Linked DNA regions of Homo sapiens: region 2 is linked to region 1. The links come from fine-mapping of genetic effects on gene expression. Tissue or cell type: aorta. Region 1 holds a variant in brackets; the other region holds the start of a gene. All regions are shown on one strand. Distances are from middle to middle. Region 1 overlaps GAS6 (growth arrest specific 6). Region 2 holds the start of GAS6-AS1 (GAS6 antisense RNA 1).

Region 1 (3,009 bases):
GTCAGGGATGGGGCCCCGGCCGGCTCCTGGCGGCTGTGCTGATGCAGAATCCCTGGTCCTGGTCCTCGTTTCCTCGTAACTCCGAAGGCCAGCCCCAGCCCCTGTGTGCTTCAGAGTAGAAAGCGTTTATAGTGACCTGCTGAAAATAGCATCTTAGAAACACTTCGAGACGCGAGCTCCGTCCACACCCACAAGTGTTCTGTTGTCAGTCATTTGTGCAAAACAAGCAAACGGAGGTGTAGGGAGGAAACTGTGGGGTGTACTGAGGAAACTGAGGCTTATAGAGGAAACTGTGAGGCAGACGGAGGAAACTGAGGTGTATGGAGGAAACTGAAGCATACAGAGGAAATTGAGGCGTATGGAGGAAACTGGGGCGTATGGAGGAAACTGGGGCGTATGGAGGAAACTGGGGCGTACAAAGGAAATTGAGGCGTATGGAGGAAACTGGGGCGTATGGAGGAAACTGAGGCATATGGAGGAAACTGTGGGGCGTACAGAGAAAATTGAGGCGTATGGAGGAAACTGTGGGGTGTATGGAAGAAACTGGGGGGCGTATGGAGGAAATTGAGGCATATGGAGGAAACTGTGGGGTGTATGGAGGAAACTGGGCATATGGAGGAAACTGTGGGGCGTATGGAAGAAACTGTGGGGCGTATGGAGGAAACTGTGGGGCGTATGGAGGAAACTGTGGGGCGTATGGAGGAAACTGGGGGGCGTATGGAGGAAACTGGGCATATGGAGGAAACTGTGGGGTGTATGGAGGAAACTGGGCATATGGAGGAAACTGTGGGGTGTATGGAAGAAACTGGGGGGCGTATGGAGGAAATTGAGGCATATGGAGGAAACTGTGGGGTGTATGGAGGAAACTGGGCATATGGAGGAAACTGTGGGGCGTATGGAGGAAACTGTGGGGTGTATGGAGGAAACCGGGGCGTATGGAGGAAACTGGGGCATACGGAGGAAACTGTGGGGCGTATGGAGGAAATTGAGGCATATGGAGGAAACTGGGGCATACGGAGGAAACGCGGGTGTACGGAGCAAACTGTGAGGCATACGGAGGAAACGCTGTGAGGCATACGGCGAAGCGTCGCAGAAAGAAGCCAGTGTGGTTGGGCAGCTTCCCCAAGAAGCCTGGGACTCGTAGCCAGGGCCTCTGGTGAGCGCGGTGCCTGGACCCGCCTAGGAGGACAGGGGCTGTGTCTGTGCCGGCCACAGGCAGTGACTGTAAGCCCTGGATGAGCTGGAGGAACTCAGCTTTGTGAACCACAGACCCGCCCGCCGCTCACCCTGGCACCGGGCACCCCTGACCCCGGCCAGGTGGGGA[T/G]GGAAGCGGCTCCTGCACTGACAGCCGAGCCCAGACCCTCTGGTGGAAACGCCACATTCTACAGACCTGGTGGGAAACGTCACCTTGGGAGCCTCAGGAACAGAAGCGACACGCTGGCAGTGAGAGCCCATGCACTGAAGACTCGACGTGCCCCCACCAGGGCTGACCCCTTAGGACGATGCTGGCCCAGTGCCCTAGGGCCCTGCTGGCCCGGCCTGCACTTTTCCCAGGGACTGGTCCTTATTGAACTTGTGTGGAATCAATGGACCGGAGCCCTCTCTCAGCCAGCAGGGGGGCCCTACCCAGGGTTCCCCACGGAGCCCTGTGTGGCTAAGCTGAGCGTGGCTGAGTCCTCATGTGGGGCTGAGCTGAGTGTGGACCGCGCCCCTGAGCACTGCCATGCTCAGCCCCGAGCTGCTTCTGCTCTGCCAGCAGCCATGAAAGGATTCTTTGAGCTCCGGGTGTAATTGTCGTTCTTTCTGCCAACTTCCCGGGGCTCAGGCTTGCGTAACTGCACTGTCGGGGGCTTCCCTGCCTGCCTCTGGGACGTGGTTTGGGTCCGTGTCCTGGAAGCGTGTTTGTGAGCAGCTCCTCGTATGAATGTGTTTGTGAGCAGCTTCTCGGATGGGGGACTGCTTGGGAAGCAGCTGCACTGGCACGGGTTCCCACCCTCAGGCCCTCACCCGTTCCCCTGACCTCTGGCCCTGCAGGAGCTGAGCCCAGGTGACCACCCTGAGAAAGGGCAGAACACACCTGGCCTAAAGCCATCAAGACACGTGGAGAGGGGGCAGCTAAGCAGAAAGAGGGGGGCTTCCTGGAGGACCCCTCTGGCAGTGCAGCCTGGGCCTGGGGTCCTCCCCGCCACACCCAGCAGGGAGAGTTCACCAGAGATGGGCTAGGGGCTGGCCAGGGAAGGCAGAATGTTCCGAGTCTGCCTGGAAGCCCCCAGGTCAGCTGGGGGTTCTGTGTGCCTACTCCCTGGGAGGTCTGAGCTCCCAGGCCTCACGCCAGGCAGTTCCTGCTCCTTTGCCCTCAGCCCTTCCCACCTTGCGTCCAGGCCTGCTGGCACTCCCTCCCAGTTGATCTGAGTTTTCCTGGAGCCGGCCCCAGGGCCCGCCAGCCTATTCTGTCAGCCCTAGGCCAGCACAGAGGGCTCGGGTGCCCAGGGGCTGCCTCAGCCTGCGCCCCTCAGAGCTCCTCCGGGCTGGACCCGAGACCCCACAGCCGCCCCGATCTCAGCTGCGTTGGGCGCGCAGGGGTGGGGCAGCTGAACATGATTTTCCACTTTGTGTCCCCAATCAGACCTGCCTGACCAGTGCACGCCCAACCCCTGCGATAGGAAGGGGACCCAAGCCTGCCAGGACCTCATGGGCAACTTCTTCTGCCTGTGTAAAGCTGGCTGGGGGGGCCGGCTCTGCGACAAAGGTACGTGAGGCTGAAGACAAAGGCGGGGTCTCCCTCCATCTCCGACCCTGCCCTGATCCCCGCTCCTCACTCCCACTCCGGGGCACGGCCATCCTCAGGCTGCTCTCCGACAGCCCCAAGGAGGCTGCAGCCCTGAGGTATCCTGGAGCCCCAGGAGAATTGGGAGGAGCTGCAGTCTCCTTTCTGGGAGCAGGGCTGGAAGGAAAGGAAACACCAAGTGATGCCTCAGCACCCACTGATTGAAGGGCGGGGGGGGAAAT
Region 2 (2,720 bases), 25 kb after region 1:
GAAGCTCCAGCCACAGCCCCTGCCTGCAAAGCAAGAAGGGTCACCTGCCCCAGGGTCAAGGACTCCACGAGGGGAGAGGGGGAGGGTCCGCTCCATGGTGCCCTTGTTTCAAGCACGTTTTCTGCTTACTGAATTCCATCAGTTAAAAGGTCTAGGAAACAGAAAAGGAAGTGGCGCGTGTCGCCGTCTGAGGATCTGCTGACGGGCCCCGGCCTCGTGGAATCCTCTTCTGCCTCTGTGGGTCTCCAGAGTTTCGGAGGCATCTCTGCTCCCACCGCGGGGTCTGGTGGCCACGGGGTCCCCAAGTCTGCAGGAGGAGCTGCTCTGTGTGGCGAGGGTGATGACCATGGCTCTTGTTCACTGAGCAGGGCCGGTGGCCAGCACTGTCCAAGTCACCAGTGCAGCCCCATAAGGCCATCTTCACAACATCCTTGGGGCCCGTTTCTCCCACTCCCGTTTCCATGGAGATGTGATTCACACAGCAATAGCCACGCCTCATGAGTGCAGAGCATGGGTCGGTGGTCAGTCCATCCACGGGGCCGTCCACCCATCACTGCCATCTGGCTCCCGGACACTCCTCTTCCCACAAGAACTCGTGTCCCTGACCAGTGACTGCACCTCTCCCCATCCAGAACACGCTTAGAACACACTTGCCTCCCCGAAAAGAACTCGTATCCCTGACCAGTGACTGCACCTCTCCCCATCCAGAACACGCTGCAAACACGCTTGCCTCCCCGAAAAGAACTCGTGTCCCTGACCAGTAACTGCACCTCTCCCCATCCAGAACACGCTGCAAACACGCTTGCCTCCCCGAAAAGAACCCGTGTCCCTGAGCAGTGACTGCATCTCTCCCCATACAGAACACGCTGCGAACACGCTTGCCTCCCCGAAAAGAACCCGTGTCCCTGAGCAGTGACTGCACCTCCTTTCCCAGTCGGCTTCTGTCTGTGGACACGCCTTCTCTGGACACTGCATATAAACAGAACACAGTCTTCATGTCTGGTGTCCTTCCCTGAGCACTGTGTGTTACAGCCTCAGCACCCGTTAGAGCTTCCTTCCTCTCCGTGGCCGGGTGACCCGCGTGTGGATGGGCCACGTCCTCTCCCTCTCTGTGGCTGGGTGAGACCCGCGTGTGGATGGACCACTGTAGTATTCTGTTTTCACACTGCTAATAAGGACATACCCGAGACTGGGAAAAAAAGAGGTTTAACGGGACTTACAATTGCACATGGTTGGGGAGGCCTCAGAATCACGGTGGGAGGCAAAAGGCACTTCTTACACGGCAGGAGCAAGAGAAAATGAGGAAGAAGCAAAAGCGGAAATCCTGATCAACCAGTCAGATCTCGTGAGACTTACTCACTATCACGAGAATAGCACGGGAAAGACCAGCCACCATGATTCAATTACCTCCCGCTGGGTCCCTCCCACAACGCGCAGGAATTCTGGGAAATACAATTCAAGTTGAGATTTGGGTGGGGACACAGCAAAACCATATCACCCATGTCCCTTCCTCTCTCCGTGGCCGGTGACCCCATGTGGACGGACCGTCACCCATGTCCCTTCCTCTCTCCGTGGCCGGTGACCCCACGTGGACGGACCGTCACCCATGTCCCTTCCTCTCTCCGTGGCCGGTGACCCCACGTGGACGGACCGTCACCCATGTCCCTTCCTCTCTTTGTGGCCGTTGGCCCCATGTGGACGGACTGTGTCCCTCCCCCACTCAGTAGTTGCCTCTGCTTGGGAGCTCTTGTGAGCAGTGCTGCTGTGTGAAATGTAGAAACTGAGGCAGGAGGAGACTCCCTGTAACCCAAGGTCCCAAGCTAATAAGGTGGGGCCAGTCTCAACGGACCCCTGCCCAGGGCAATGCTCTGACCCTGCCCTCCTCAGTCACAACCTGCAGCTACACTAGGCCCCCACCTCTGAGCTGCAGGAGAAGCCTGTCTCCTGTGCTGTCCCAGTGAGGCAGGGAGTGCAGGTGGGGCCACAGCACCCCAAACCCCCCAGCACCCCCTGCCCCGGGGCCACAGCACCCCCAAACCCCCCAGCACCCCCTGCCCCACCATCCCCTCCACCCCATCTCCCGCGGCCTCCAGGGTCTCACTGACCTCGGCTGTGCATGGGAACCAAGTGAGGGCGGGATTGGGAGCCCATCCCTGCAGAGGAGGCTGGGATCAGAAGGCCCCAGCGGAGCCCAGAGAGGGGGTTCATCAGACCGTGACTCAGGCTGGCAGAGCTTGGTGGCCCCAGACAGGATCCGTCCACATGAGACAGGTGCACCTCGAGAGCAGCCGCCGCCCACACTGCAGGCCAGGCATTGGCCGGAGCCCTGCGCCAGGTGGGAGCTGCCCTGGGACCTGGGGGACCCTCCAGCCACCACGAACCTTGAGTCAAATTGTTCACATTCTTTGTGGCTGGGATAAAGGATAAGGACATTTTTGTGGCAAGAACAAAACTGTTGACCTTGGAGTTGAATATTTTTGAACAGCTTTTGACTCTAGACAAGATTAAAAGTCGGGAAAGATCGATGTTGTGTTTGGGGGAAGCTGGTGAGTGCAGCCTCGGGGAAGCACTCTGATGCCCCCACACCGCACCCTGCGACCGAGGGCTGACATGAGGGGAAGGAGGGTTATTCCTGTGACTTTGCTGGCCAGAGCTCCAGGGGGCATAGACTCCCTGCCCAGACCTGCAGTTCAGCTTCTCTGCTGTTCGCACCCCTAGGA

Evidence for each region. PIP is the estimated chance that this variant, and not a neighbour inherited with it, causes the effect.
Region 2: GAS6-AS1 starts here. The variant in region 1 is fine-mapped to the expression of GAS6-AS1 in aorta (GTEx, PIP above 0.99). The same link has a PIP of 0.9 or more in sigmoid colon, subcutaneous fat, thyroid, tibial artery, tibial nerve and transverse colon.

The regions. Positions count from the first base shown.
Region 1 is chr13:113,839,468-113,842,476 of GRCh38, reverse strand. GAS6 (growth arrest specific 6) reads left to right here. Exons shown (of 15, transcript NM_000820.4): 5 at 2,627-2,749. GAS6-AS1 (GAS6 antisense RNA 1) reads right to left here. Exons shown (of 5, transcript NR_044995.2): 5 at 1-108. Among named protein-coding and RNA genes, the nearest start is that of GAS6, 23 kb to the left of the region's middle. RefSeq lists an enhancer at 2,470-3,009. The variant T/G (reference allele first, on the strand shown) is at 1,325.
Region 2 is chr13:113,814,192-113,816,911 of GRCh38, reverse strand. It overlaps GAS6-AS1 (GAS6 antisense RNA 1), which reads right to left and starts at 1,302. Exons shown (of 5, transcript NR_044995.2): 1 at 1,221-1,302. It overlaps TMEM255B (transmembrane protein 255B), which reads right to left. Exons shown (of 9, transcript NM_182614.4): 9 at 1-2,720. RefSeq lists enhancers at 879-998, 1,059-1,298, 1,349-1,418.